Linked DNA regions of Homo sapiens: region 1 is linked to region 2. Evidence: fine-mapped expression QTL. Tissue or cell type: whole blood. Region 2 holds a variant in brackets; the other region holds the start of a gene. All regions are shown on one strand. Distances are between the middles of the regions.

Region 1 (16,772 bases), 46 kb after region 2:
GCTCTTCCTCTTCAATCTGCCTCTCTTCTCTCCCAGTTACAGCTATCTCGCTTAGTCCTTTTCTGACTCTTGTCTCTTCTGGAAGGGGGAGAGAACAGGGACAAGCAGTAGATGCAGTTCATATTGCAGTAGTCCAATGTGTGTGCCTAGACTATATGCCAGCCTTTAAGAAAAACAAGGACCCTCCCAGTCTTGTGGAGAAAGCCAGGCATGAAATCAAGGGCCAGACAGCACAATTAGGGACAGACCCAGAGGAGCTTCCCCAAAGAAGCTTGGCATTACAACTGGAAGGCTGGGGAATTTGCTGGGCAAAGGTATTAACTAATTTGTAAAAATCTAGGAGAGTCACCAATGGTTTTATTCAGGCACATCATTGTTAAAAAATGTAGCCTAAACAACCTCCAAAATATTTATATTTATTTGTGAATTGTAAATTTTATATACTAGTGTACCAATATATTATACATATTATAAAACATTACAAATATAGAAATTAAATAAGGATACAATAAACATGTCATAGATGAAATTATGTGATATTTGGAATTTGCTTCAAAATAATCTGGGGGGGCCGGGCGCGGTGGCTCACGCCTGTAATCCCAGCACTTTGGGAGGCCGAGGCGGGTGGATCACGAGGTCAGGAGATCGAGACCATCCTGGCTAACAAGGTGAAACCCCGTCTCTACTAAAAATACAAAAAATTAGCCGGGCGCGGTGGCAGGCGCCTGTAGTCCCAGCTACTCGGGAGGCTGAGGCAGGAGAATGGCATGAACCCGGGAAGCAGAGCTTGCAGTGAGCCGAAATTGTGCCACTGCAGTCCGCAGTCCGGCCTGGGCGACAGAGCGAGACTCCGTCTCAAAAAAAAAAATAAAATAAAATAATAATAATAATAATAATAATAATAATAATAATAATAATCTGGGGGGAAGAGCAAGTGGAGGCAGAGGTAGAGATGAAACCAGCCTGACCATCAATTAATAACTGTCTAAGCTGGGTGAGAGGTATGTGGATATTCATATGCTATTTTATTTACTTTTGTATATGTTTTTAAATCTTTGTAGTTTAAAACTAAAGAAATAACTATGACTAGCCAGGTCTAGCATTTTCTTCAGAAAGCCCCAAGCATGGCTTTGCACCACATCCAAAGGTCCGTGAACCATATCTTAAAAACCTGGGGGCAGAGGATTGACCATATTGAAATCTGCAGGTCTACAAATTAGATTTCAGTTTCATTCAGGCTTAGGAGCTACATGTTTACCACCTTCCCGGTTCTGTGCCCTGGCACTAAATGAACTGCTCTCATATTTACATTTCTGTTTATTGACTGCTCCTACCTTAGGCCCTGAGCTAGACACTTGGTTATCCTTTAAAATATATTTACTCCCATTAGCTACATGAAATACAAAGACACTAAAGTTCAGAGTGATTTAATAACATGACAGAAGTTACACAGTTAATAACTAACTGGCTGAGTCAAAATTCTTGTCCCTGTTGTCCCTTCATATTTTGACTTTCAATAAATTCTTACTCCAAGGTCCAAGCATATCTAAAATAAATCCCACTCCATCTAATACCAAAATTCCAGAGTTCTGCAAGGTTCCTGCCTGCTCATCCACTTAAGCTCAAGGAAGGAACTCCTCAAGCAGCAACCAGAAATAGCAGCAACATGTTACTAAGTGTAAAACCATCTCCTCTCCCTCCCCCAAGCCCTTCCAGACTCAAGTACTATTGGCAGGAAAAACATAATAAGCACAAGGAATAAGGCCAGCAAAGATAGGCATTAGTGAGAAGGAAGTCCAGGAAGTGCTAAGCACAACAGAGACAGTTTATCAGAAGTCATTCAACATGCTTTTTCTTGGGCTCATTCCTGACAAGTTCAACTCAGAGTCATCCGTCAATGGACAGTTTTCTTCTATTCTAAATATCCATTTTCAAAAGAAAGCAACACAGCAGTTTTTCCACTAAGGCTTATATGGTACACAAGGCGTAGAATCAAATCACATTATTTGCATATACAGGTGATTTTTCCTTCGAAAATATTCTATATTGCGTAATTACACATTCAAATCATTCTAAACCAGCCCTGTCCTGTTATGATGCATGTGATTTAGAGGAAATTACACATCTTACCAAACATGACTGCAAATCAGCTTGCAGTTATAATAGAGCCAGCAAGATATTTATGTCCAATAACCACAGAAGCTCTAGGATAATGGCCAAAGAAATGAGACATGGGAGCCATATGAAGGGGCACAGGAGTCAGAGTCCTGTTCAGGTGTTCAAGATACACGAGCTACCTTGTCCAGTGCCACCAAAGGAATCAGAAACATCTAATGAACTACTGATTTGGCTACCCTTCATGTGTGAAGCTGCTGCTGCTGCTGCTGCTGCTGCTGCTTCCTTCAGGACTGGCCTGTGTGTGTGGACATTTCACTGAAAAGGACAATGGAGAAGTAGCTAACTTCCTTGACTTCACCAGAGGGGCTTGGGCAAGGCTCCTCTATGCTCCCATAATATCCTGTTTCTCTCTCTACCACTGCACTAACCTACTGCAGTGTAATGCCTCTATGTCTCTCGCTAACCACCTGTATCATAATGCCTCTTTTTGTGTCTATTTCCATCATTAGTTGACAGATTAAGGGCATGGACTAGGCTTTAGTCACCTGTGATTGCCAGTTTAATCTAACCCCACTTTGGGAGGCCGAGGCGGGTGGATCACGAGGTCAGGAAATCGAGACCATCCTGGCTAACATGGTGAAACCCCGTCTCTACTAAAAATACAAAAAAAATTAGCCGGGTGTCGTGGCAGGCGTCTGTAGACCCAGCTACTCAGGAGGCTGAGGCAGGAGAATGGCGTGAACCCGGTAGGCAGAGGTTGCAGTGAGCAGAGATCACGCCACTGCACTCCAGCCTGGGTGACTGAGCAAGACTCCATCTCAAAATATAAAAAATAAATAAATAAAATCTAACCCAAGACCCTTCATAGAGCAGAAGCTCCCCAAAATTTTGTTGGATATATGCGAAAATGAATAATGCAGGACAGGCACAGTAGCTCACATCTGTAATTCCAGAACTTTGGGAAGCCAAGGTGGGAGGATCACTTGAGGCCAGGAGTTCAAGACCAGCCTGGCCAACAGAGTGAGACTCCATCCCTACAAAAAATTACAAAATTAGCAGGGTGTGATGGTATGTGTGTGTAGTCTCAGCTACTCAAGAGGACTGCTTGAGCCCAGGAGTTTGAGGTTACAGTGAACTATGATCACATCACTGCACTCCAGCCTAGGTGACAGAGCAAAGATCCTGTCTCTTAAGAAAAAAAAAAAAAAAAAAAGGAAGGAATTTAGTGCATTGTTGTTTTACTGCATACAAAGAAGCGTTGCTCTTTAATTCCAGCTGTAGTCAGTATTTACAACATTGCTTTATATCTTTGACACTTCTGCCCCAGCTGAGTCCTTCAGTTCCTGAACATGCCTCTGTTCTAGCTGCTGCTTTTTCTTCAATTGGAGTTGAAGCTCCAGTTCTTGCTTCTGGTATTTCTTCTGCCCTGACTGGAAGAAACCCTGCTCCTCCCTCCCTCCCAGGCCTCATCCAGCAGCTGTCTGACCAACCTGCTGGTCTGTCTGCCAAGTTCATAGTAAGTGTGCCCAGCCCAGCAGAGTTGGGCTAACTTTAAGGCAGGCACACTGGCCTTGTGCCAGGCCCTTGCTGTTAGGAAGCCTGTACTGTCCTATAATGTTAAATGGGCCTTATAAGTGCCTGGCGAAATGGCTCCCAGAGCCAGATATGCCTTCTAACAAGCAGGCATTGTTACTTAGCTGGTTTACCTGTGCAATCTTATCTCCTCCTCGAGAATGTAAACTCCTTAAGGAGTTGTGCTGGAATACGTCCTTGTAAAATCCCCTGAATACCCAGCATAGAGCTCCATGCTCAGTAAGCTTCCAATAATCATTTCTCCATTTGAGAACAACCACATCCATCAATATTTCTCAGCCCTGGCTTAACATTAACAGATGCCTTTACATGCACTATTTCCTTTAAGTCCACAGAGCAAATCTTGAGGAAGAATCACCATCCTCAATTTTACAGATAAAATCACCCAACTTGCAAATGGCAGAGCTGGAATCCAGGTCTCTACCTACCCAATGTGGGGCTCTTTCCACTCCACGATGCTGCTTGATAAAAACTTGTTGCATGAATAAATAGGCAAAAACCCGTCTCCCTGGACACAGCCACTTACTGCTCCCAGACCTCAATGCCACCATGGCTCCTCTGCACCAGACCCATGAGGAGATGATGATTAGGTTTTTGACTTTTATCCATGATGTATGATGTCTGCTGTCAGGGGAACAGTATTCAGTGACAGCTTTCCCAGAGTACTGGCAAAATTGGTTGGCACAACTTATTTAAAGATTTTTTAAAATATATTTTGTCCATTATTAAAAAGGAACAACAAAAATCATGAGTAGGCAGCCCCCACTGGAGAATTTTCCAAGAAAATCTTCAAGGTAGACGCTTTTCAAACTGTCTTCTCTATCAGCAAGTGCGAAAACTACGTCATGGGAAACTATAGTGCTAAAAGAAGCCTAGGTTTTTGTTTTTGTAAAATTACCCCCTTGCAACTCCTTATAAGCAGTAAGTGCTGCCACTTGAAATGCTGCAAAACAACAGGCCTGGTTTGAGGGCTACTTTATAATTTCTCAAACTTTAAAATCGTCTTTCGAGAATTTCAGCAGCAGAAGCAATATAAAAGTCTGAACATTGGCTTTTTACATATAAAGAGGCCTATAGAATGTTTCTCATAAAGTGAGATGGTGTCCTGAAAGGCCTGTACTATGCTCAAAATGCCAAGGTCAAATGAAAGGAGTCAATCCCTTAAGCAAGGGAAGACATTCTTTTCCAAAGAGACACAACTATCCCCCTCTCCACCCCCACCCTGACCATCTTCGTAGGAAGTCACACCTTAAAGCCTATGTGAGGCTTACCTCTGAAAAACAGATTAGCTCCACCTCTATAAAATCCATCATGCTGCAGGGAGGGCTATATAACCTACACTTTAGGTAACTAAACCCACATAATTTCAGACCCACTGAACAAATCCCAAAGGTTTACAGATGAGAATGTGGGGCTCAAAATCTTTGTTCTAAGGCCAAAAATCTAACCTGCATTCGACTTTTTTTTTTCCGACCAGTCTAACTAAATTAAAAAGAGACACTTTCTGCAATTTTCCCAGTTAGAAGCAAGTGGCAGATCAATGTACAGCTCAAGAAGCAGAATTTAAATACAGTATGTGTGTCTCCTTTCAAAAAAGGAGAGAAGCCACTTCACATTTTGCCAGACAAAACCCTGTCCACAGGAGGTCCGTTTCCACAATGAGGTTGCAAAGGTGTTAGAAAGAGGCCAGTTGGGAGGAGATAAAGGACCATTTGGGCACAAACCCCCCACCGATCAGAGCTTTTTTTCGAAGTGTCTTTTTCAACAGGGCAGCCTTTTAAAACTACATTTGCTTAGGATCCCTACCTGAATGACAATGTGTTGGGATCCAATTTCACCTTTTGTCAAGGACTGGGTGAGAAACAGTAAAATGGCTGTCAGCATCTTAGAAAAAGCAAGTCCTTAGCTTACAAGGAAAAGGCGTGGGGGGGCGGGATAGGGGGGAATCCTAAGATTTCTTGTCCAGCCCTAGGGATGGAGTGAAGGTGGCAAGTGCCTACAAATCCTACAAGCAGAGTCCACAACTCCAATATATTAAGTTTCCTTTATTAAAAGAGGTGCCTCAATGCAAAAATACAATTGTGCTCTGAATGGAAATATTCACCACTGTTTTTTTAATCCTAGTTTTCTATCTTTTCTAAAAGTCACTTCACTCCTAAGAACTCAGCAATAATCAGAAATCAGAAAATGCATATGGAAAAAATTGCAACTGAATCTGAACCTGAAAGATCGGCATAGTTGAATGATGCATCTTAAAAGCTTATCTATTATTATGCAAATCAAGAAAACCCAACTCCATTGCACTTCAGGGCTGGGTGTCTGCAAATAAATGCAAAATTACCTTTCAAAATCCATCCACTCCTCAGTCCTCATGTCACCCTTTAAAAAATTCCGGTGGTCTTTCCCCACAGTAGAGAAGGTCTGTGGAACTTTCCTCAAGAAAATTGTAACCTCTTGGGAGGAGATTGGTGTGGGGAAGTGGAAAGAAGAGGAAGGAAGAAGGAAAAAGAAAAGAAAGAGGAGGAGAAGAACGAGAAGGAGGAGGAGGAGGAAGAAGAAGGAAGAAAGAAGAGAAGGAGAAGACGAGGAGGACGACGCGACGAAGAAGAAAGAAGTAAGAAACCTAAATCCCAAAAGTGACTTAAACACCTCTCCCGGTGGGAGGTGGAAGGAGTGGTCACAGTAGGATGGAAATCAGAAACCTATTCCAAGAACGCATTCTTGGAAACTTCAATCTTTCGAAGACCACATTCATCCCCATGATTGTTAGAATGTGTAAGAGAATGGTGTTATTTTATCTAAGAATGTTATAGCAAAGGTTTCAAGCTGGGAATGTCATCTCAACCTCTCCTAATCTAGTGGGCCTTTATGGCCAAGTGGATTAAAATAACAGCGGGGCAGAATCTCCAGGTGGTTGGTGTTCAGCAATTTTTACTACTGTTGGTCGTGAGTAACATCATCAGGATTCCTTACTAGCTGCGGGCAGTTTTTCTGTCAGCCCTCCTTCCTCTCCCGAGGAGGACGGACATGATAAACAATCTGGAGAAATGGGAACCTTATTCACTTTGCTCCCTTTTTCTTCGACCCAAAAAGGCACACACGAAACAAAAATCATACAGCAGACAGCACGCAAACTACAGCAGGATATGCGGAAAGCAACAAAAAGAGTCCCCCAGCAGGATTAGAGTCGGGAGTCTACCCAGAATCTACCAGGCCAGCCCCTCCCCCCATGCTCCCGGGAGGGGAAAGGAGCGCGGAGCCCACTCGGAGGGCCGCTCTCCGCCGGGACCTAGGTGTCCCCGGGGCAGCTGCGTACTCTGCGGCGCCTTCCCTCCCGGCGCCCATTGGTGCGCCTCGGTAGGGAGGACGCGAGGACGCGAGGACGCGGTCAAGGGGGTGGGGTGGGGACTTCGGAAAATCGTCCGAGCCAGACGGGGCTGGCTGCTCTGGGATGGGGACACAAAGGGGGAGTTTGCAGGCGTGGCAGGGTGAAAACAAGCCTACATGGGAAATGTGTGCAAATTAGAGAAGACGTGCGAGGAAACTGGAGAATCCTTGACGAGATGAAGGCGCTGGTACTCAGAAGAGGGGGGCTGTGCAGGGTCAAGTGGGTTCCGTGCAGAGGGCAGGGGATTCTCCAGAGAAGGGCAGGGGTAGACGAATGCATGGAAGAAGAGTTGGTGTATTGTCAGGGGGTCTGTGCAGAGGACAGAGGGGTCCGACGGGAAGCCGGGCTCTATGTATGCAAGGAGCCGATGCACACAGTCCAGGGGACTTGTACCGGGAGTGGGATGGGAGTTTGAGCAAAGGAGAAAGGCGGGATGTCTGGCCAGCTCGGGGGCCACTTACCTGCATGGTGACGACCCCCAGCTCCTCGGCCGCCAGCCTCCGCATCTGGCTCGCCAGCACTTGCGCCTCGTCCAGGATGGAGAAGTCGGCTTCGGCCCCGGCGCCCAGGAGCCAGCACGCGACCAGGCAGAGCAGCCAGAGGGGCGGCCGCCGCGCCCGGGCCACGGCCGTCTCCTCTTCCTCCGGCTGGCGGGCCATGCTGCCTCCCCCCACTCCCCGCCGACGGGCTCCGGGCGCGGGGAAGCGGGCCGCGGGAGGTGCCCCCCGCAAAAGCGCGGCGCACCCCGCAAAAGTTTCTTCCTCTGTTGCAGGCTCTGCTCCGCGCCGCGGTGGCGAAGGCTCCCAAACTTAGGGGGCGCCCGGCTACAGCGCGGGAGCGCGGGCGGCCACCATCGCGGGGCTCCGCGGCGGTGGGGGTAGGAGGCGGCCGCCCGAGCGGTCCCCGGAGCCCGGCGCCCACACGGGCCCCGCGGCGCAGAGGGCGTCTCCGAGAGCAGGGGCGCCCGCAGGCCGGGGTGCGCGGGCCCCGGGGCTGACAGTCGGAATCGGAGTCGGAGTCGGAGCCCGAGCCGAGCCGCGCGGCTCTCGCTTCCTGCGAGTCCCAGCGCAGCGAGCAGGCGGCGGCGAGGACTGACGGCGGCCCCCGGGGAAGAGGAGCGGCGGCCGGGCTGCGAGACTGGGGCAGCCACCCGAGCGAGGAGGGAAAGGGGAGGCTTCACAAACCCACACAACTGAAAGAAAGAAAGCAAGCGGTGGGGAAAGGGAGGCGTCTGGTGCCACCACGCTGCGCTCCGGCTCTGTGCACTTCCCGGCTGGGCCGCCGCGGCGGCTGCGGTGATTTATGGAACCAGCAAGAGAGGCGGGGAAATTCCCCCGGTTGCCCCTCCTCTCTCTCCCTGGCTCCCGCCTCAGAACCTGCCCCCCGGGACGCCGGGGGCCGGGGGACCAGCCTCTCTCTCTGCTCGGGGACCGGCCCAGCCCGGGCAGGGGAGCCCACGGACCTTCCCGTGGCTGGAGACGGAGACCCCCGCCAGCGCTCCCCGCCTCCGTCCGCGCCAGGGAGCCCACCCGGCCCAGGTTCCAGCCATCGAAAAGTCCTTTAAGTTCTAGGACGCTGGCTGTCTGCCTGGCAGCGGTTGGGGAAGAAGGGGACTGCCATGTGTAGGTCCACTCCCTCTCCTTGATGTTATTCATCACAATGGCTAGCTAGCGTTCCACCCACAGATTTCTGTTGCAACCAGCCACCGTGTGCCCGGCACTGGGCTCGGGGGTGTGCACATTATCCTTTAATCTCCGCGACATGCCATAGGAGGTACGTATCTTTATCCCAATTTTTTAGGTAACAAAGACTGAGGCTTAGAGAGGTGGAATAAATTGCCAGAGGTCACCCAGGGGATAAGAAACAAATCCAGAGTTTAAGCACAAGTCTTACTCCAAGGCTATTGCTCCTAAATACGATACAGTTCTCTCTGTCTCTCTTTGGAAATGAACCATCTGATCCCATCAAAAGCAAGAAAAAAGAAAAAGAACGACTGAACCGGAGTCCACCGCGCACACACCTGTTCTCCCAAGCATGGAGAGGCAAGGTTAACCTTCCTGTTTGTCCCTGACTACTGGCTCAGGCTCGCTGAGAAATCACCTGTTGGAAGCACCTGGAACAAGTCAACCTGCTGTGTGTGGAGAACAGCCACTCTCCCTTCCAAGCCCTGTGTGGTTGCTGCTTGCAGGTTCCTGGAGAACAGAGCCAACACTGGAAGGTTAAAGGACTAGTCCAGGGTTACCTAGCAGAGGTGGTAGCAGGATTAGAACCTGGATTTAGGACTCTTTTCATTTTACAGCAAAACCTTCTGTTTTACATCTTTGACTATATTGTATTAAAAAGTCATCTTCTCTTGTAAGCTCTCCCTGGCCCATTTTTACCTCATTGAGATCACTTCTCCATTCTCAACTCCCCTGCTAATTTTTGTATTTTTAGTAGAGACAGGGTTTCGCCATGTTGGCCAGGCTGGTTTCAAACTCCTGACCTCAGGTGATCCACCTGCCTCGGCCTCCCAAAGTGCTGAGATTACAGGCATGAGCCACTGCGCCTAGCCTGTGATGTTTGTTTTACATACTAAGGCAAGCATGTTGAGTGTGGGGACCAATCCCTTCACCTCCACATCATCCACACAAGCACATAGTAGTACTGGAAAAATGATTCTTGAGTTAATAATGAGGTAAAAACCTACCTGTATGTCTTCTATTCCTGGAGTTGAGCTGACATTTGTTAGAAAGATGATCCTTTAACTTCCGTTTTTTAAATTGTTGTACCTTTGACATGACACTCCGCAAGAGAAAGCATATTAGTCCATGTGATTAGTGGAAGAGTAAAGAACAAAAATAATAATGACATATAGCATTATTTTTTTATTTGATTCTTCAAGGTTACCATCACCAAGGTGTCACACATCTCTAAACTCCTTCTGAAATGCCTTCACAATAGGCATTTATTGCCCATCTTTTATATGTTGGTATTTCTTGAGGTCCTATTTCTTGGGATGCTAATCCAATGTCACCTTTTTTTCACTCTAAGGTTCTTCTTTTTGAGGACTCTCGACCACATCTATGCCTTCAATTATTACCAAACACGAGTTTATCATACTTCTAAATAAAGCTCAACCTGGATCTCCATTTTTTCTAGCAAGTTCCTGACTTCTCTAGTAGATATACCTGAATGAAAACTCATTACTGCTTTCCCCCATGTTCCACCTAAATCCATGTCTGGCTGCAAATCTAGGTGGATGTCACCCACTCTGCAAGCTAGGTACGCACTCTCCATCCACCCCAGCTCCCAACATATCTCCCGTGTCCATCCCCCGCTGTCCATCTGCATCCTATGGCCTGACTTCAGTTCCTCATTGCAGCTTGCCTGTATTATGACCAGTCTCCTCATGGGTCTCTGTGCAGTCTCTCTGTTCCCCCTCATTCTGTTCTTCACATGGAAGTCAAAATCAACTTTCTAAAAGTCAAATCTCAACTTGTCATTCACTAATCTAAACATTTCTGATGCCCCATCACAGATAAGTAAACTTAACAAACAAGGCCCTTTGTGCTCTGACCCTGTTTGCTCTTCTGGCCTTTTTGTAGCCACTGTGCCCCTCAGTTGCCTCACCACTCCCAGAAAACACCTATATGGCAGCCTCAAAATTCTTCCCCTTCTCTCCACTTGCTAGGTCCCCTATTCAGCTGAGGTGTCATTTCTGTGACACCTACCCCCACAGAGTTTACGGCTCCTCTTTGGTGCTCCAAAGCTCTTGGTTCTTCTCTCAGCACTTAATGTCCCCTCAGCGCTTAACAAGCAACATTGTGATTTTCCACTTGAAAGCTTTGATTTCTCCACCTTGTTTCTCAAAGTGTGATCCACCAAACACACTAGCCTCAGGACACTTAATAAACTGCAAATCCTGTGCTCTATTCCAGGTCTACTAAAGCAGAATCTTTGGAGGTGGGGGGTGGGTCCTGGAATATGCATTTTATAGACCCCCCTTCCCCGCCCTGACATTAGTCTTATGAACTAATGCTAGACTGCAAGCAAGCTTGCCAGGATGGTAACTCATGCATCCTGGAGCTCTATTTAGCCCAGTGTCTATAGCTAGGAGGGTCTCAGTACCCGGAAAGGAACTTATGGCTATTCCTATGTTGCCAATAGAGAAAAGCCTCAAAGAAATAAAGTTATTTGCCCAAGGTAATACAACTTTTAGATGGTGGTGTCAGTATACAAACCTGGGCCTTCAAACACCAAAGCAAAAGCTCTGAGCTACTAGTCTGACGTCAGAGAGAACATTTACCCACATGTGTACTGGTACATGATAGACCAATAAAAGCTTATTGTGTGATATACTGCCAATCCTTAATGTTCCTCATCCATATAAGTGAAATTGTCCTACCCATCAATCTCTGCTCAGTACTAGTTGATTCTTTCCCAGGGGGGGTCAACTGATGGGACCAGGATAGATATGTGACATCAAGGCAACCAATCTACAGCACCTAAGGCATGGCAGAAATATTAACTGGGACAAGACTTCATTCTAAAAAATTTTAGTTAGGAAATACTGAGGAAAAAGCAGTTAGAAGTAGTAGTTAAAACTATAAGGATATGAGAGGGGGCCATAGGAACCATGAATCTCATAATGTATATAGCAGAAAATATATAGGCATATATATACACACATATATACATACACACACAAACACACAAATATATACACAGATGTATATACATGGCTATATATTCCCTGATATGCACACACATATATGTATGTATACACCTCTGTATACATATATATGTACACAGATATAGATATAGAATAAATATAGCTATTAGATGGCTGTATATAAATACATATACATATATATGCGTGTGTGTATATATACAAATACATATACATATATATGCATGTGTGTATATGTATACGTGTATATATGTATATATACATATGTGTATATATGTGTATATATACATATGTGTATATATACACATATATACATGTGTATGTATATACATACACATATATACACGTGTATGTATGTGTATGTATATACATACACATATATACATGTGCATGTGTATATACACATGTATACATGTGCATGTGTATATACACGTGTATACATGTGCATGTGTATATACACGTGTATACATGTGCATGTGTATATACACGTGTATACATGTGCATGTGTATATATACACGTGTATACATGTGTATGTGTATATATACACGTGTATACATGTGTATGTATACATATATACACACACACACACATAGTCATATAGCAAAGCTGAGAGTGTGAATCTTGGACAAAATCTGGGTTTGGATCCCAAGGACAATACTTCTTAGCTGTCGTCTCTGTAAAACTTAACTTCTCTTAGCCTCAGTTGCTTCATCCGTACAATGTAAATAATGCGACCTAAAGTTTTTGTGAAAAGGCACATAAAACACTTTGCAAAGGACCTGGTACATTGACACACTCATTAAGTAGCAGTGTGACTCTGCAAGCTGAAGCTGTGAAGGAGCAGACCCCATGAATGAGCTAAGAAAGCCAATCACAGACAGGGGAGAGTGGAGTACATAGAACCTATGGCCTGTAACAGAGACTGTCACCAAGAGCCAGAACTGACTTGATTTCAGAACTTTCTCATTCCAAATCCAGTCTATATGTTCTATTAATAATAGACCCTTTTCTTCTGTCTTTTGTCTTGATGTAACTCTATAGATAAGTTCAATCATCCATTCTATACAGAGAGGACACTATTGACTGTGCAGTTGTTTGAACTACAAAATAATGAAAAGACTGGTAAGTGGGTCACAACTGTCCCTAGAAGACCACAGATCACCATGAAACTTGTCTGATGATTTTATATTCTCCACAGAGTAATCCTCTACCCCTTGCTTATGACTGAGTTGGACACTTGTTCATTATCTGCTTCCTTTCCAGAAGCTCCAGCAATTAATATTGCAATTGTCCATTTGCAAGTCTGTTTTCTCCATCTCAATGTTTCTCATGGTGTGTTCTATTAACCACCTACAGAGGAATGACCTATCAGGAACTATGTCTGTTTTATTCACTGCCACAGAGTCTAGCATAGTTCTAGACCCAGAGTAGAAATCCAAGAATTGTTGAACCAAATAATTGGGGGAAAAATTAGAAAAATCCATGAATCAATAACTCTCATGCAAGGAGCTACAGTAACAATTTTGCTCCTTGACTGCTAAAGAATAACCAAGAGTCCTCATCAAACTGGCTGCTCTTCCATATTTTGGGAATTATAAAGCTACTTCAGTGATAGGCCGCCTCATGGTACCCATTGTCCAAGATCTTCATCACAGAAAAACTATATATGAAATTGTTTTGAGGAACTCTTGGCCAGAATTCCAGAAATGTGGTATGGAGTTCCCAAGCTACCGTGATTCCCTTTACATGCTCTGAGGTGGACATAAGACCCAAGTTAGCAACAAATTCTCAGCCTAATGCTACAGGCAGGTCTCCTATTCAAAACAATAACTGGGCCGGGCACAGTAGTTTAAGTTTGTAATCCCAGCACTTTGGGAGGCTGAGGCGGGCGGATCACTTGAGGTCAGGAGTTCAAGACCAGCTTGGCCATCATGGTGAAACTCTGTCTCTACTAAAAGTACAAAAATTATCTGGGCGTGGTGGTGCACCTATAATCCCAGCTACTCGGGAGGCTGAGGCAGGAGAATCGCTTGAACCTGGGGGGTAGAGGTTGCAGTGAGCCAAGATCATGCCACTGCACTCCAGCCTGGGTGACAGAGTGAGACTCCGTATCAAAAAAAAATAAAAAATAAATAAATAAAACAATAACCAGCTGCAAACTATATCGAACCTGTGAACTCAGGGAGCTCAGGAGAATGGAACTGGTAATTCCTAGGGCAGAAATTAACACTCACTTGTTAATTTCTAGCAGACTACAAATCTCAGCCAGTGCCAACTTACGATTTTTTTTTTTTTAATTTTTAAGTTAAAAAAATCTTTTTTTGAGGCATGGTCTCCTTCTGTCACCCAGGCTGGAGTGCAGTGGTGCAATCCTGGCTCACTGCAGCCTCAAACTCCCTGGCTCAAATGATCCTCCCACTTCAGCTTCCCAAAATGCTGGGATCACAGGCATGAGCTGCCATGCCCAGCGACTTGTTGTTAAATAAATGGAAATGGTTAATGGTCTAGACTGAATCTTAGAACACAGACTCTCTCTGTTTTTCACATTCTTCTGCTGATTTAAGAAATCATCAGGTTTCCCATTTCCCTTCAAACTGGGAGACAGTAAAGGTTGAATAACCATGAGAGGTACAAGTTACTAAAACCCTTCTATGGTTAGGTGCTGTATATGACACACAGCATATCATTTCTTTCTTTCTTTCTTTTTTCTTCATTGAGATGGAGTCTCACTCTGTGAGCCAGGCTGGAGTGCAATGGCAGGATCTTGGCTCACTGCAACCACTGCTTCCCAGGTTCAAGAGATTCTCCTGCCTCAGTCTCCTGAATAGCTGGGACTACAGGTGCCTGCCACCATGCCCATATAATATTTTTAGTAGAGACAGGGTTTCACCATGTTGGCCAGGCTGTTCTCGAACTCCTGACTTCAGGTGATCCACCTGCCTCGGCCTTCCAAAGTGTTGGGATTACAGGAGTGAGCCACCATGCCCGGACTCATTTCTTAATCTCTTAGTATGTTTCCTATATTCTATCATTTAAGCATCAAAATAGGGAAGACAAGATCATTGCAATATTATACACAGGGAAAAGGAGGCTCAGAAAGGTAAAGTAACTTGACCAAGGTTACAGGCTAGTAACAGCAGAGGTGGGATGGAAACCCAGGTCTGTTTGACTCCCAGCTCAATTATTTTGCAACTCTATCATGTGCCTCTCTCTGAATGAGAAAAAAGAAAAGAAATTATATTATTTGGCACCCCATGAATCGCTGCCCAAGAAACATCCTTATTTCCAAAGCAGCAATTATTTTTTCCTGTTAATTTCAACAAACATTTATTGAGCATTTGCTATATGCCAATGATTTTGCTGGGTGCTAGGGATATAAAGATGAATATGATTGGCTGTCCTTAAGAACTTTACAGGTATCAGAAAGGACAGAGAATCAAGACAGAGAATATTACGTCCAACAAGTGCCTTACGGCCTTTCCTGTTGCTGTTCCGTCTTGAACGCTCTTCCTTCAAATATCTGCTTTCACTCTTAGGAACTGTGAAAGGTTATGCCATTTGCAAGCCAACAAGTCAACCCACCACAGCCTCATGATGCTGGCAGAAGATATGAGACTCCTGAATTAGAGACAAAGGGCTTTATTGCTCAGAACGATAGCAGTAGCCAGAGTGTCAGCGTTTGTGCCAGTCCTCCAAGACCCAGTTTCCACAGGGCAATATGAAGAGAGCCAGGTGACACCTGCATACAACAGGTAGTATTGAAAGAGAGAAACCCCAAGCTTAGATAGCCCAAATCTTTTATGATGAAATGCAAACAAAACTGCCCTTTGCCCCAGAAATATATATGTTTAATATATTGAACAGAAAGCAAATTTTCCCTTTGCTCTAAAGAAAGACACTATCTCTACCTGCCCAGGCTGTTCAGTAAGCAGAAGTCTTTGAAAATATAGTCCAGAACAAAAGAGTGGTTAACATCTTGCTCACAAGGCATGCAAAAATGCAAGAAACCCATAGAGAATTGTGGCACTCACTCACTGGCTAGGGAGGCAAGACATAGAAATATACAAAGTGAATTAGCAATAAGAGATTTAAACCACCTATTGAGGCTGCAATACAAGAGATGGAACAAAACAAATAAAGCAGGCAGGCCAGGTGTGGAGGCTCATGCTTGTAATCCCAGCACTTTGGAAGTCCGAGGCAGGAGGATCCCTGGAGCCCAGGAGTTCGAGACCAGCCTGGGCAACATAGTGAGACCTTATCTCTACAAAAAATAAGCAGAATTAGCCAGGTGTGGTAGTGCATGCCTGTAGTCCCAGTTATTCTGGAGGCTGGGGTGAGAGTATTGCTTGGGTCTAGGAGGTTGAGGCTACAGTGAGCTGAGATTGTACTACTACACTCCAGCTGAGTGACAGAGCAAGACACTGTCTCAAAAAACAAAACAAAACAAAACACAGACAACAATGATTATATATGGAAATAATATTAATAATTATCTATTAATACTAGCTATTTATATTAATATTATAAGGAAGAGTTTCAAGACATAGGGAACAGCAAGTGGAAAGGCCATGAGGCACTTGTAGATAGATAGCTATTAATATTAATAGATAACTATTAATATTAGCTAACACTTTCTGAGTGCTTACTAGGTTCTAGGCATGATGCTGTATTTTGTGTGTGTGTGTGTGTGTGTGCTGAAACATTTTTAATTATTTCATTACAGTAAATATTTAGAAAAGCATATTATGTATTTCTCTTTGAAAATGTCTAAAACAATACATAAGTTCAAGGAAATTAGAAATAGCTAATTACATGGTGAATATTTATTAGCTAATTATTTACACCCCACTTAATTTTGTTAAAAACTAATTTGAGGTGGCAAAACATTTTTTTAATTTATTTTTTATTTTTTTTAATTTTATTATTATTATACTTTAAGTTTTAGGGTACATGTGCACAATGTGCAGGTTAGTTACATATGTATACATGTGTCATGCTGG
Region 2 (16,772 bases):
TTTTTGTAACTTAAAAACATTTCAAGGATACATTTGCTTTTTCTAATTCTGCCACTCAATTATTCTTGCAATCAAAAAGTCATCTCTGGAACCATCCTTTTCTAGAACTTCTCTTTGGATTTTGGTAATGAAATACTTTTGTCATTACCCTCGCAAATTCAGTGAGGTAGATAGGCAAATATAGTGTACCTGAAAGTATTTTTATACAGTTAAGTGCTACATATTACATTATTCCTATATCCCTGGTTAGGAAAACTGAGGCACAGAACAGGCCACTAATGTGGGTAATGTCACACAGTCAAGAGTTAAAAACCCAGTAAGTGGTGCTATTTGATCCTGAACTGTGTTTCACAAAAGCAGACATGGAGCCAACACACTACAATGGGCTCACTTCTGGAAAAAGATGAAAAATTGTCCTATATACAAATTATTCATACAGTAATCAATATTCATTCACATACTTGCTTGTCATTATTTAAAATATTAAAATAATCCAGAGGTACTCAAAGCTGCTCCTCCTTTTATCTAAAGCAGCACAAATAGTTTCATTGAAAGCACATAAAAACAAAAACAAAAGAGTCAGCAAAACCTTTACAAGCCTATTCAGAGCCTGGCACCATTTACATCACAAAGTTTAACCATTACGGGAAGTTGGAATGCTCACGTTTCATTACTAGTAGAACCAAGAATAAAGCATAGAATAATTTCCAGATGGTGTCTCTTTTTTTTTTGTACAGATTTTTCAATTTAACATTGTTCTGAAAGCTTTAGTCACCTGAATACAGAGCTATAACAATTCTATGCAAGAATCTTGTTCTTGGATAAATAAAGACTCATCTACTCCATTTACTGAGGTCCATAGCCATTAGAAAAAGGAAGCAAGAAAGAATAAAGCATGTGAAAGTCTCTTCTACAAACAGCACAATCATTGGAAAAGAATATCGTTCGACCCCAAGTGAGCAGATTCTCCACAGACTATTTCTGACTTTTTCTAGTTATCAGCTTTATACATTTTATATGTCAACTTACATTTTAAAAAGTACAAAGATTTACAGAATCACAGGCTTAAAAAGCTTCAGAAAAAGACTCACATAACCCTGCAACCAAGGGCATGGCTGATTAACATCAATAACACATGAAGGAAAAACGGCACTGTGAGCCACAGGTTTATTCTGTCAGGGCTCTAGCAAGCCTCAGATGGATCCAGCCTCCTAAAAGTGTTTGTTCCAGGAACTGTTTGTTCACAGGTCTGTCAAAATGCTCCTCCAGACCTAGATAGCACAAGCATCCAAACTCAGAAAGACTCACTTTTATGTAAAGCAAAGCCAGCTCCAAATGGAGATGCCACTCAAATGCCTCAATGCTATATTAAAAACAACCCCCTAGAAAACTTATTTTTTAACTATGGAAAACCTATAAAAGAAGACAAAACAGTATAATAAACCCCCACATACCCATTACCTAGTTTCAGTAATTTCCAACTCATAGTCAATCTTGTTCATCTATATGCTCACTTTCCCCAACCTAGATTATTTCTGAATAAAATGAAAGATACCATATTGTGTCATCTACAATTAGTCTGCATAAAACTCTGAAAGATAAGGACTCTTTGTAAAATAAAAGTAACAATACCATTGTCACACTAATAGCAATTCCAGAATTTCACCAAATACCCAGTCAGGTTCAAATTCTGCTCTACTGGGGAAGATGGAGGCAGCAGTAAACAGAAGGGAAGGCCATCATGGCTACTTATGCTTTTGTTTTAAAACTGTGCCAGCACTTATGACACAGTATGGTCTACTTCCCTGGACTCAAATCATTCCAAACATTACTGAGGATCTTTTCTTTCTCTTGCAGCCAAGATGCAATGTTCTTTCACCTGGAAGGGATACCACACCAGAATAAAATACAGGAAGCCATTTTTCTCACTGGGATTTTCATCATTAGGATTTTCCTAAATTCATGATTAGGAGGAAACTATTAAATGAATCCAAATCTACTAAATTTTGCCTATGCCTCAAGGACTTTTTTTTTAAGTTTCTTTTGAAAAAATTTCAGACTTACAAGTTGCAAAAATAATAAAGTGAGTTTCCCTGTATCCTTCAACCACCTTCCCCCATTGATAACATCTTACATAACAGAACTTTAGGAACTTGCTCCGACCAGGGCTCATGCCTGTAATCCCAACACTTTGGGAGGCTGAAGCGGGCAGGCGGATCACTTGAGGTCAGGAGTTGAAGCCTGGCTAACATGGTAAAATCCCATCTCTACTAAAAATACAAAATTTAGCCGGTCGTGGTTGCATGTGCCTGTAATCCCAGCTACTCGGGAGGCTGAGGCAGGAGAATTGCTTGAACCCAGGAGGCAGAGGTTGCAGTGAGCCGAGATCATGCCACTGCACTCTAGTCTGGGAGACACAGCGAGCTTCATCTCAAAAAAACAAAAAAAAAATGTGGGGGTTGAGAGGAAAAGAAAAGAACTTGTTTCAACCCATACATCTATGGCCATCTATGGTCTTGAAGGGTGCCAAAACCATTCAGTGGGGAAAGAAGAGTCTTCTCAAAAGATAGTGCTGGGACAATTGGATATCCACATGTAAAAGAATAAAGTTGGACCCTTACAACATATGTAAAAATTAACTCAAAATGGATCAAATATCTCAATGTAAGAACTAAATCTATAAAAGTTTTAGAAGAAATCACAGGGACAATCTTCATGGCCTTGGATTTGGCCAATGATTCTTAAACATGGCACAAATAACATGAGAAACAAAGGAAAAATAAACTTTGTCGAAATTAAAAACTTTTGTGCATCAAAGGATGCCATCAAGAAATTAAAAAGATGACCCATAGAATGGGAGAAAATATTTGCAAATCATATATCTGATGAGACTTGTATCTAGACTATATAAAGCATCTTTACAACTCAATAAAAAGATAATTTAAAAATAGGCAAAGAATCTGAATAGACATTTTTCCAGGGAAGATACACAAATGATTAAACTGTTACCATATGAACCAGCAATACCACTCAAAAACATATACCCAAGAGAAATGAAAATGTATATCTATATCAAAACTTCTACACAAACACTTACAGCAGCATTATTCATAATAGCCAAAAGGTGGAAACAATCCAATGTCCATTAGCTGAAGAATAAACAAAATACAGTATATCTATACAATAGAATAGTATTGTCATGAATAAGAATCAAGTAATGATATGTGTCACAGCCTGTAAAAAGCTTGAAGATATTAAACTAAGTGAAAGAAGTCAGTCACAAAAGACCACATATTATATATGTTACATGGCACAGCAACTTTCAGAAAGTTAATTCAGATAATTCAGAGATTATCCAATGGGCCTAAACTAATTACATGAACCTTTTAAAAGCAGAGTTTTCTTTGGCCAGGGCCAGAGGGGATCAAAGACATACTCTAGCTGGCCCACAAGCAAACACCACACATGTTGTGAGCCGTCTATGGTAGCCACAGGGCAAGACACAAAATAGCCTCCATGAGCTTAGTGCAACCCCCAGATGACAGCTAGGAGGGAAACTGAGACCTCTGCCCTACGACAGCAAGGACATGAATCTTATCTACAACCAGTGAGCCTGGAAGAAGACTCCAAGCCCACAAGGGAACTGAAGTACCAGCTGCCATCTTGATTTCAGTCCAGTGAGACCCTGAGCAGAGAACCTAGCCCAGAGTTCTACCCTAAAGAAACTGGGATAGAATAAATTTGTGGTGTTTTAAGCCACTGAGTTTGTGGTAAGTTGTTATGCAGCAATAGGACTAATAGGAAAGCCTTACCTGCAGAGATAAACCTACCTGTAGAGATAAACCTAGGTTTAGATAAAGATTCCCACTGCATGTCTCAGTTTTCTCATCTATGAAATGGAGCCAAGTCTCTATTTCACACAGTTGATTAGAGGGGGAGTAGAGACAATGTACAGAAAGGACTGCACACATGCTACGTGCTCAGTAAATGGTAACTAATATGTTTTCCCACCCAGTGACAAGACATGGTTCCGAGTATGTGGAAGTTAATCAGTGCTTTTTAAGCAAAAGAATCCTTACAAATCATTTCAAAGTCTACTCCTACAGCGTGACATTAGTAACAGTGGTTTCCACAGTGGGGTTCCAAAGGCAATGTTAGGATGCCTAATTAACTTAACAATAATTCAGTATAGGTAATGAGATATTGCATGTGAGTTAATTAGTTTAAACTACAACTCAAATGTGGTTGGCATTATATTCAGGAATGCACTCTAGGGGTAGGCAGGTCGTGTTCTAAGCATGAAGCCCATACTCCAGAAAGACACACTGCAAATATTTCCACCATCCATGTTCATTAACACCAGGCCCTTTGCCAATTAGCAAAGTGAATGTCAGAGGTGGATTTGTGTGGGTGTGTGAGACGAATGGCTTCTTTGCTAGCAATATAAATGTGAGAAATGGGCCATCCCTGGTAAACTTAAACATATATTCAAATTATGAGAATTGGCCAAAATATTCTAGAAATACCTCTACCCTTGTATGAATAAGAGTGTAGCCTTGATAGGCTTGTCCCCTAAGTGGACATGAGTCCGGCACAGTTGGAGGACTTCCAGTTGCTTGATGCTGACTATTAAAGATAACAGAACTCTCCTCTGGAATGTTGTAATGTCTACAAGTACAGCTTTCATGCAAAGTGGTGAGCAGAACAACTAAAAGAAGACAGCTGGGACTTTATCAAGCATAGAGAGTAATGTTGCAGAAATATTTTGTGCCTACTGGCTGATATACGGCTGTTAATCAACGTCTGTATGTGCAGCAGAATGTCTCAGACTTGCACTAGCTATAAGTAGGTGGCAAGGTTGTGGGATAGTAGCAAAACCTCTCACCTCAAATAATCTGGCAGCTATCAAAATTCACCAGAAAAAAGCACCTAGGAGTTGTGTATAACCGAACTGGCTTAGATCAGCTTACAACAGGTGGTAATGACCGAGAGCTGTTTGCAATATTTTATTTTTTAAAAGAAAAAAACTCAAAATGTGCTCGTCATAAGACTAACTAAAACATCAAGTTTTTTGGCTTGAGCCAGGAATTACACCAGCTTAGTAACTCTGGTTAACTCTGGTGAACTAGAACTGCTCAGAGGATCTGATTGATAGTTAATGGGCAGTCACTGGTAATGCTTTTCTTTTTATTTTTTTTGCTGGAAGGAAAAAAGTTAATTCAGACTTACCAGATAGTTTGGTAGGTATTTTTTACATTATTAGAATAAAATCAGTTCCCTATTACTAAGTCAGTCAATCTTTTCACTTTAGAGACAAGGAAACTGAGGCCTGGGACAGATCAATAATTTTTCTATGGTACTCCTTTCAGAAATCAGACCTCCTTATGGTATCTGTTGTGCCTCTCCCTTGCAGCAGTCCTGGGCTGTGCCTCAATCGAAAGGCTCCACTACCTCAACCTGCTGGGTCCAAGCCAGATCATTTAGCATCTGGAATTTTCCCACATTTCCATTGCTGGAGGCAAAAAGTTTATCAGTCAGGCCCAAGAAGCTATTACTGTCTCCCAGAGATTTTTGAGCAAATTCTTCCTTGAAGTCTTTGTTATCAAATGGGTAACAAGGGGTTAATGAGATTAAAAACAAAACCCAGGTCCTGCTAATGAGTAACCCCTCAATTGTAAAGCTTTCACTCAGTTAAATGGTACCTATCTCTAAAATTACCTCAAATAATTAACATAATGAGGAAGGGAAATTCAAGGTATTGTGAGGGACACAAAGATATTGATAGAACCACTAAGGTTGGAAGGCACAAGCTAAGGAGTCACTAAGCCCTTATCTATGGGGTTCTAGAACACAATAGGTTGTAAATAGCCTGACAGAAAGACAAAGGCTCCAACTCCCAGGGAATAAGGCAGCAGGAAAATACCCACACTAGGCATGCTGATGTTATCCAGAAAAGGCTAAACAAGGACTGTCCCATCCTCTTTCCCTTCTCAAGCAATAACTTCACCAGAAAAGTGATTCCCATCATTTGGAGTCACAAAACTAGCCATCTATATACCTTACTTTCTTCCTATCCCATGAGGCACAAAGAAACTCCAGCTTAGACATGGCACAATCACACAACTACTTTGACAGAGCTGGGCATGGACCTTGATCCTCTGACTCCACCAATCCATGTGATTCTGTGTTAAATTTTGCATCTTAGACCTGCTTCCATTTTCTCTACCATTCCCTGATATTGCCATATTCCTGTACATGCACTAAAAAAACAGATTTCCAATTAACTTGATTGAGAATAATAGGACATAAATGAGATAATGGAAGACCATCTTGAATGTTGAAAGCCAGGGCTTAAAATCTAGATGATGGGTTGATAGGTGCAGCAAACCACCATGGCACATGTATACCTATGTAATGAACCTGTACATTCTGCACATGTATCCCGGAACTTAAAGTGAAAAAAAAAAAAGTCATTGATTTTCACTGGAGAAGTAGCACAGAAATGTTTTCCATCCCCATGTGTGCTGAGAGTATGTCCGCTGCTATTATCTTAGAGGAAAGAAGTTAAGCACAGGTCATGAGCTGACAAATTACTACACTTAAGCTCTTCCCCCTGCTCCATAATGGATCCCTCTCACCGTAAGGAGATACAAACATTTAGAAAACACTAAACCAAACCAACACCTCCCAGGATCCTCTACAAAGGTTTCCTGGTTCAGTAAGGGAAGCCTGGAAGAGATCAAGTCATGTTCAAAGAGGATCACAAGCTGTGCTACCACAGGATTCTACTTTCTTTCCCTCTTAAGATCTAATCATTTCCTTTGTTTCCCAAGGAATACAACCATTACAGCCACAGGACTGCCAAGTTCAATCAATGACATAGAGTAGGCAGGGCAGCTACCCTGGGGTGGTGGAATATACTTTTCAAGTGTAAAAGGTTAAGCTAATAGGAGAAAGAAGAGTAATCGGGTAAAGGTGCTACACTGTCCAGGTCCCTCCTCCTGAGGAGAAGCTCATGGTGATAATGATCACAATTTTAATCTAAAGTCAATCACGTCATTCCTCAGCTCAAGATTCCCCACAGGTTCCCCTTACCCTTACAATGGCCTTTAAAGCCCTAGTGATGCTCTTACTGTCTTCCTGCCCCATCAGCCTCCTTGCTCTTCATCCCACTGGGCCAAGCTCTGCCCAGAGAATCCACATGGCATACTCCTTTGTCTCCCCTTGAGTTCTTGCTCAATTATCATTTTCTCAATGAGGCCTCCAGTGACTACTTTATTTCATTGCAACCCCACAGCTCCCTGCCAACTCTCCCCTGTCCCACACTCACTTAATTCTCCTTTATTTCTTTTTTATTGAATAGTACTAGCCATTCTCCAACATATGATATCATTTATTTCCCAGTATTCATGATGTCTATTGTCTAGCTCTCCCCAATGGAATGCAATTGGAATGTAACCTCCATGCAGAAATGGATTTTTGTCTGTTTTGATCACTGATGAATTAGTAGAACTAAAAGCACATAGTATACACTGAAAAAATATTTGCAGATCACTTCTTGGCCTTTTGGCTAGGATCAAATGTAATGAATAATATTTGTTGAATAAACGAGATGTCACTTATTCACTAACAATAACAGCAGCTAGCATTCAGTACCTACTATGTCTCACACATATAACAAGTGCTTTCCCCGCTTCATGTCATCACAAGCCCATGAAATAGGTACTAACAGCATCCCCAATTTACATGACAAAACTGAGGCTTAAATGACTTGCACAAGATCACATTGCTAGTAAGTGGAGAAGTCAGAATGAAAACCCAAGTCTGTCTGACTCCAGTTAATTGCAATGCTGAATTTCCCACTCCAGCTCTGCTAGACAAGTTTTGCAATTTTGTTTACTAGGAGGAACAGTTTAAAATACAAGAAAGAATTGCTCCAGCAAATTCAGAGACAAGTCTCCAGAAAAAAATTTCCCTAGAAATGTTTCTATATTATAGAATATGCTTTATGGTATAGTAGAAAGAACAATAATAAGAAGATAAAAACCTGGGTTCAGATTCAGACTCTTCCCCCTAACCAGCTCTGAGGTCAATGTGTGAGTAATAAGCTAAACCAAGAGATAATGATGCCTATCGTGCAAGACTGTTTTAAGGATTAAATGAGATAATATTCATGAAAATGCATAATCGAGTCTGGCTCATCATTTGGTCATTCCTTTTTTCCAACGTGACAGCCTCACTGACAGAATCTCATAAATGAGTAAACATTTACTAAGTACCTAGCGTGTGCCAGGCATTATGCCGGGTGTTTTGTTTATGAACACCGTAAGCTGGTCTGTTAGGCAGTACGACAGGTTCCAAGTCTAGAGATGAGGCAGATCAGCAAAACAGCTGTTCTAGAACCACATGAGAAATGCTACTGCAAGTTATGTACTGAACATCATAGGATGCAATGCTAACATTAAATGCTGAAATTGCTTGCTTTGGCTAAAATGAGAATGGAGAGATAGCGATAATTGATTGCAGAATCACCAGGAGAAAAAAGAAAATGTTAAACGGACAGGTATATTTAGAATTAGGACTGCATTGCTGAAGAAGAACCCATGTTACTTTGTCCTTAACTTAAAACTAATTTGAAAATGTTGCATGTTGGTCTAGTTTATGTGCTACTTATCAAGAAAAAGACTACTTGAATATACAAATATTTTTTTCAGATATTTGCAACCTATATATGAAAATCCTATTAACAATCTCTTCTACCACTTCCTTTCCAAACTATGAAACATGCCCTGAATTCCAAAAAATGAAAGTATCTGATAATCTCAAGTTTTATACATGCTTCAAGTTTAGGAAGTAGAGCTAGGCAAAAGAAGGAGTCAAGTCAATGCCCTTCCCAATTTTTAAAATTAATACCAAGAGTTGAAACCATGAATCCCAGCCACCTTTCTATAATCGTAGAAAGATTAGCATGTTAGTTTAATTTCTGCACACCACTTCAGACCACCTGCATCCCCAAATAGTGTCAGATAACAGGCCTTTCTTCATACATTAATTTTACATTACCCTCTCTCCCAGGCAGCTAGGGAGCTAACAAGCAGTCCCTGTGGCTCAATCTGAACAGAACTGGCATGCATTCAGGCAGCACAACTACAGCTGTTGCATAATAGCATTTCTCATGTGAGGAAGCCATATCAACACAAATACTAATAGTCAAAATGATTTAAGAAGGGAAAAAATGCTTTGAGATACTTTGAATTTGCAAGGATAGGAATTCATTTTCATTATTAATTGCATATGCTTATATTCTAAAGAACCTGAACAAATGTCACACCAATCATACTGGAAACATCTGAGTTGAGGAGGCTCTTAGGGTAATTTAAATTCAG[T/C]CTCTTGCACAAAGTAGTAGGGTTTGTATTATTTCTTGTCTGTTTTTGTCATAACCTGAACATAACTTCCATAGCTCCCCAATTGTGTTTTCCAAAGGACACTCCAAAGCAATTATTTTTTGTAAGTATCTGGTTCAATTAAAATTAGTAGAAATTGTTAAATAGTTAGTATTAATGGGGATTCGGGATTTGCTGGAAGGAAAATCTAAGAATTAATACCATTTGGATTAATCTAGATCCAAAATTTTCACTTTTCTATGCCATAAGCATATACATTTATTTCTCTGTATTTTCCTCCTAAATAATCCAATACTGTATGCAGTATGACCAAAATCACATGGATGGCAGCATACCAATGAAGAGATTTAGAGATTACACATAGTCAAGATGTCTCCATTATGACCAAGGGGGCAAATATGAGCTCCGGAACCTAGGAACCAGTCAACTTTGCTTCTTTCTCAGCATATTATAGAATAGGTTATTTAATTGTAATTACTAAAAACAAATTTGGATTCTGTAAGAACAAATCAGGCCAAATTATGCCACTTAATTTAATATACAGGTAGAAATTATAAGAATTAATACATATCTTATTTTCACCAAGGCATTTGACAAAGTACTGCATGTTCCATTCTTGAGAACAAGAAGGCACACTGAGTTAGACTGTCAGACTTGGAACTTTGACACCATCATAAAAAGCTAAACTACTGCTGGAGACTAAAAAGAATATAAATAGGAGTTATCACATAGCTTTGCTGCTGTGGTAAATACCAATGATCCTATGGTCAACTATGCATCTAGCTCAGCTGCCTACAACTGCATTCCTCCCCCACTGCCCAGTTCAGTTTTTCAAAACCTAGAAGTGAAACCTAGGAATTCCTTTGTTACAATGTTAAAGCTAGAAGACTTTTATATCGAGCTACAAAAAAGAAAACTCACAGTCAAGCTGGCAAGAGTCCTTTTTAACTAGATAGCCATATGGACACCTCTTGAAAAGAGCCATATGGTTAGACTTGTTATTTTTGGCCTCTTTAACTCCCTTCTTGTATATAGAGGCCTCCAGTTATTACCAACAAGTGATAAATCACTCTGAATTTCCAAGGCCACAAAAAGCATTCACTGGCAATCATTCCAGGTTTCACTTTTAGCTGAAGACCCTGGAGAATTCTTAACTGGGGGATGTTCACAGTTTCCAAAACGTTATTTTACTTAGAGCAACACTTCAGATCTAAACTTTATCTTGATAGCTAAGGTTCAAACAGAGAAAGTAAAACACGGATGGAAATGAATTGTATAAAGTATGAAGGAACATACCAATTTAACTTTTCCTCCAATTGTTTTTTAAGAGACAGGATGAGAGAAGTGTCCCTCCTAAAAAGATTATCTGGAACAGAAACCGCAAACTGGCAACCTAATTTAACCTGCATAGGTGTTTTGTTTGACTCACACATGTTGTTGTTTTAAATTGAGCTAATGTTTAAAATTCAGGAAATTTTACATCTTATAAAAATCTGGATTTCCAACATCTTTAGAAAAACTAGCAGATCTGGCATCCCCAGACTAACATTCCTGCTGCCAACAAGTGGCTTCCATTGAACAGCAACTGTTTCTTTTAGGTGGCTCCTACCATCTCCAGCTGTGTCACAGGCATTCAAGGCCTACTTTACTCATTTCCATTTTCTGACTGCCAGCCCATTAAAAAACTAGAAAGTAAGCACTCTTTCCTTTGAGTCCTTTTCATGGCTACCATTCCTGGCAAGATGCAACTCAAATGTCAAATGCCTTGTGTTTGAAATATCTCCTGAATCTTACAGATTTATCAAATTCTACCTGTATCACTTCCACCCACCATAGCTGCTGGGAAGCAAGGATGCCCTTATACATGATTACTTCCTCCTTTTCTCCATGGCATTCGCACAGTGCTTTACATAAAGCAGATATTTAATAAAATATCTAGTAGTTATCTTATAGCTCTATGGCTTACAGCAGCCTTTCAACATAAAACAGTGTTTCACCTTAGAACAGTATTTCTCAATTGGGGAAGATTTAGCCCCCCAGGGGACACTTGACATTTTTGATTGTCACAGCTTGGAGGAAGTTACTGCTGGTGTCTAATGGGTAGAGGCCAGAGAGGTTGTTAAACATCCTAAAATGCACAGGACAGCCCCCTCCCCTGCCATCGTCACATGTCATTTGTGTTAAGGTTGGGAAAACCTGACTTAGAATGACCCAGATGAACACAGAAATATTGCTGTAAATTTGCAGATGGATAATCTTGGGCTAGAAATTAATGTGGTTTACTCAAGGTAACCCAGCTTGCAACAGAATAAAGATTTGGACTCTGGTGGCAGGCTGTCAGAATGTGACAATAGAAATGGAGAATGGAAAAACAGAACAAGGATGGAAATTTGTGCCTCTGTTTGGCATGAACTTGTGTGAAAATATCCAGAGGTCAGAGATTAACATCCACTAATATAAAGTATATCTTACCTGATAATGAAAGAGTCCAGAAGTCACTTAAATGGTGGCAGAAAAAACTTAACCACATATCAAACTTACATGCATATACTGAAAAACCAAGTTCTACCCCGCCAAAAGATTTTTTGTATCAGCTATTCAAAACAACTACATGAAGTTACAACTAATCCATGTGCTGATGAGCAGAGAATACAAATGACTGAAATAACAGTTTCAAATGAAAATTCCTCTTTAGGAGAAAGAAAAGAGGAAGGTACAGCAACTTGAAGAGTGGAAATGTTGAATTTAGCCCGAAATTGGCAGGGGTGTGTGTGTCTGTCCCTAGCCACACCTGCAGACTGTTATTTTGTCTTAGTTACTCCAGTTGGCCTGCAGTAGCCTCTCTCCATTCAAAGTAAAGGAGGAACAGCAGGAAGTGTTAAAAGGGGAAGAGCAGAAGTTGAATCATTTGCCCTTGAACTCCAGAGGGCTTCTGCTTTTTTTTTTTTTTTTTTTTTTTTTTGAGACACAGTCTCACTGTGTCACCGAGGCTGGAGTGCAGTGGTGCAATCTCAGCTCACTGCAACCTCTGCCTCCTGGGTTCAAGCCATTCTTGTGACTCAGCCTCCCAAGTAGCTGGAATTACAGGTGTGCACCACCATGACCAGCTAATTTTTCTATTTTTTGTAGAGACAGGGTTTCACCATGTTGGCTAGGCTAGTATCAAACTCCTGACCTCAGGTGATCCACCCGCCTTGGCCTTCCAAAGTGCTGGGATTACGGGCTTGAGCCACCATGCCCAGCCCTGCTTGCTTTTTCTGTGACCATCAGGCAGGTGCCTCAGTTTCTAAGATCTAGAAAGTGTGAATAATAATTTCTACCTCATAGAGTTATGGAAAATAATAACAATCAGTAACTTTATATATAAAACCTTATTAAAAAGTCTTACTATACATGCCAGTGACTATGCCAAATGCTTTATCTCATCTGACTCTCAAATCAACACTGTGAGATGGCCACCATGTTCAGATGAGAAAAGGACACAGCTGATAAGCTGAGAAAGCCCATTTCAAGTTCAAAGGAAGGCAACTGTAGTTCAAAGGAAGGCAATTGTATTCTAGAGCTGGGGTTCATAACCACTTTGCTGTCTAGCTTTCCCAACTCAAAGTGCTAATTATTGCTTTGTAAACTTGGAGCCAAAGGAAATCCTGGGGTTCATAGGGAATAATTTCCTCGTGGCCAGAGCTAAATACAGATGGAACAGATTGTCTTCTGCAGTAAGACACTCCCCATCATTGTAGCGGGAAGCGGCTGGGTGACCACTTGGAGATGTTGGAGAGAGAGATGAGCTGGAGAGGGTGGTGAGCTCTACTTCTCTAAGGTCCATTCTAATCTTGCAATTTTATGATTCTTTGTCTGAACTCTAGATTTCTAATAACCTCTCTCTGGAACCTGATGGTTGTTTATTTTCCTAGGCAATTCCTACTCCTTTCTCTGGTCTTTCTTCCACTTCTTTATTTTCTCATGATCCTAGCATGCTATAATGGAAAGAACCAGGGATTTGAAATATAAAAGCCCTGGATGTGAATGTTCAATCACCCTTATAACAGTTAATTGATACTTGACAAGGTACTAAGACTTCCTCTCGTGAGGATTTCCTCATCTATAAAATAAGAGGAAGTAACATCAAATAAGGAAAAAAACAGATTAAAGTACAGTGCCTGCTCTACAGCAGAAGTACGATTAGTCTCCTTCATTTGCAAACCTACTACATACCGTACTCCATCTGCTTTAATGTCCTATACCTGTAGAGATCTTAGGTACACTAAAAATAAGCACAGTCCAAAATATCTATGATCTAAAAGGCGTTTTACCTGCCACATAGATATCAGCAAAAGGAAAATGGATTCTCCACTACAAGGACCAGAACCATTACCAAATCCAGTGGCCTTTGACACTCTAAATTCCAATGTACCCACAGCCATATTAATCCCATAGATATTCCCCTCATTACAACCTCCAGGAATAACAATTATACATGCATTGAACTTTCAAGGACCCACAGCACTCCAATATGCAACATCTTATTTAAATCATACCACAATCTTGCAAGAGATTTACAGGAGCACTTGGCATTGTCTGCATGTATCTGAATCTTTGTCCCAGTGACCCAATCTCTCTGGCAATTTCTGGTTTTGGCAATTTAAAAATTGTGCAAAACTGAATAATGACCACCAGAACAACAAAATAAAAGACAGAAATGAACTTAATCAGAAAAAAGAAAGAGTTATTAGAAAGACACTAGAAACACAACAAGAGGCAGAAACTTAGTGGTTAGGTAGTTGAGAACATTGCCCAGGAGATTAAGCTACCTAAACAACCTTGCTGAAAGGCGACTGTGAATACCTGGCTGTTCCGTCGTCACTGGACCCTCTTTTTTTCTCCATAACCTTAAAATTATTGACTGTCCCATTTCTATTGCTGCCTAATGCTCAAAGTCCCAGGTAACAGTCCTTAATGGCCTAGTGTATGTAACACACATACTGCCCCAGCTGCCACGGCAGGAGAGAGGATCACTTGCCTTCCCCTGTAGCTCCCATTGGCTCCTAGAGCTGAAAGGGTGCAAAGATGCAAGTCAGCTGAAACAGCAATAAATGTCCAAAACTTCACTGAATCTTCATCTTAATGCTGTTGGAGCAACTCTACTTTACCTCCGCATCCCTTTTTTGTGACAAGAGAAGATACTGATTTGCTCAGGTTCACGCAGCTGGTCACGTACCAGCACTGAGAATTCACCTGAGGCTCCTGGCTCTTGACTCCCATTAAAATTTTCCTTAAAAAGCAGTTTTAACTAGCACTCTAAGTCATCCTAAATGTAGGTTTTATATGAATGTTGTAATATCTCTTCACTATTCTATCATAAATGTGAAATGTATGTATGTGGGGCATGTTCTATCTGGGTTGCCAGTTTTTCAGCATTTAAAAAATATGTTTTTCTGAAAGGTATTATTTCTTCCAAATCCTAAACTGAAAAATCTTAACAGTAATCGTGCAAGACAAAATACATCTAGGAGTATTCGTTTGAGAATCATTGTCTCTGCTATGTCTTAAATAAATCTCTCCTATTGTTAATAAACTGAGAAGGGATGCAAATGTCACAATATTAAAATAGGTATCTAGATTAGGTTTTGAAAAAATATCATAAAATCTACTTCACAGTCTTAATTTTGCATTTATATATAATGTTGTAGTGTTTTCCTTCTATCCTTGGAGATTTAACAAAACTTCCCTACTTTAAAAAGCACCCTAGGGCTGATTTCATGGTCAAAGAAAAATAAAGACTTATAAAATTACTGAATAACTTGAGTGTTTTACCCTGAGATCCTTTTCCTTCCTACCATTTTTTTAAGCCAAGAAAGACAAATGAACTAAAGCTGTTCATCTTTAGTTGATTCAAATACACCTTTTTAATAACAAGTGGCTGAAGCCAAAGAAAGGATTAAAGATGGTGCTCTTTCATCAATTCCTTATTATGGCCTGGGATTTACTTTGCAATTAGTCCCTCCTGGGCAGAGCTGAGGCCCAGTGAACTTGTTATTAACAAGTCTGGAGATCTCTAAAAAATGAAAACTCCACACTTGCTACAAGGGGCGGGTAACACAGGCATGAAAGATGCCAAGGTAGAGGGAGTTATAGAGCCTTTTGCTAATGACAGTTCAAAGAGATGAGCAGCCCCAACCCTCACAAATAAAAGCAGAGAGCATTTTTCATCCATACTCATAGTTAGGAACAAGCTAACAGAGAAAAAAAGAGAGTATGAACTTCATTAAATTTTCAGTCCTGTGGCCCTATTGCTTTTTCTCTTATAATTAGCAATAAAAGCCTTAAAAGGAAAAAAAGACCTTTTTCCTTTGTGCTTGCCATCTGGGCAGCAAAGATGAGGGGAGTAGCAGCCAATCATAGAAAGAGAAGAACCCTGGGGGTGGGGAATGGCAGGAGACACCAAAGAAAAGAAAATGCCTGGGAGCCCTGGGCCTTTTTCAAGGATAAAAAGATGAACTAGGGAGGCAACTTATCCAGACTGCAGAAGTTGTCTTGGGCTTAAGAGTAATAAACAGCCTGCGGCAGTAAGCCAGTGTCAGACCTGGTAGTGTCTTAACAGAAGACTGAGTATGGTTCTCTAAATGCACTACGTCTCTATCTTACTTAGCCCTCTCACTCTCAGGCTTAGTGAGAGAACAACTTAGGGACTTGAGAGGAATATATCTAAATAAGGGCAGCAGGTGTTTAATGTCAATCACTGAAACAAGTTTTCCAGGACAGACCCAACTCATATGTGCTTTGCCTGGCAGGTCCATTTCATTTAAGGTAGGCATGATTATCCCCATTTTACGCATGCGGAAATTGAGGTTTAGACAGATAAATTTGCTAATCCAAGGTCACACACACAAAAAAGATCATATGCTCTCATAGCCCCTGCTAAATCCAGTGCTATTTCTTCCACCAGAAGCTCTCACCCACCTTCACACCAGCATTTGTGTAGTGCGTTACACTTAATACAAGAATACCTCTCCAGGCATTCTCATGTAATTCCTATAAAAACACATCAAGAAGGTGATATGGTTTGGATTTGTGTCCCTGCCCAAATCTCATGCAGAACTGTAAACCCCAATGTTGGAAGACGGAGGGGCCTGGTGGGAAGTGATTGGATCATGTGGGTGGATTTCCCCCTTGCTCTTCTCATGATAATGACTGAGTTCTCACAAAATCTGGTTGTTTCAAAGTGTGTAGCACCTCCCCCTTCTCTCTCTTGTCCTCCTGCTCTGGCCATGTGAAGATTTGCCTGCTTTGCCCCCTCACCTTCCACCACGGTTTTAAGTTTCCTGAGGCCTCCTCAGCCACGTTTTCTGTACAGCCTATGAAACCCTG

What was found. PIP is the estimated chance that this variant, and not a neighbour inherited with it, causes the effect.
Region 1: it holds the start of CACHD1, and the variant in region 2 is fine-mapped to the expression of CACHD1 in whole blood (TOPMed, PIP above 0.99).

What each region holds. Positions count from the first base shown.
Region 1 is chr1:64,461,731-64,478,502 of GRCh38, reverse strand. It overlaps CACHD1 (cache domain containing 1), which reads right to left and starts at 8,374. Exons shown (of 27, transcript NM_020925.4): 1 at 7,561-8,374. The coding sequence starts at 7,758. LOC107984966 (a long non-coding RNA gene) reads left to right here and starts at 8,478. Exons shown (of 2, transcript XR_001738100.2): 1 at 8,478-9,317; 2 at 10,133-10,230. RefSeq lists enhancers at 4,674-5,459, 5,460-6,245 and a silencer at 8,045-8,164.
Region 2 is chr1:64,507,988-64,524,759 of GRCh38, reverse strand. All of the region lies in intron 1 of CACHD1 (cache domain containing 1), which reads right to left. Among named protein-coding and RNA genes, the nearest start is that of CACHD1, 46 kb to the right of the region's middle. RefSeq lists enhancers at 6,327-7,140, 7,141-7,956. The variant T/C (reference allele first, on the strand shown) is at 9,387.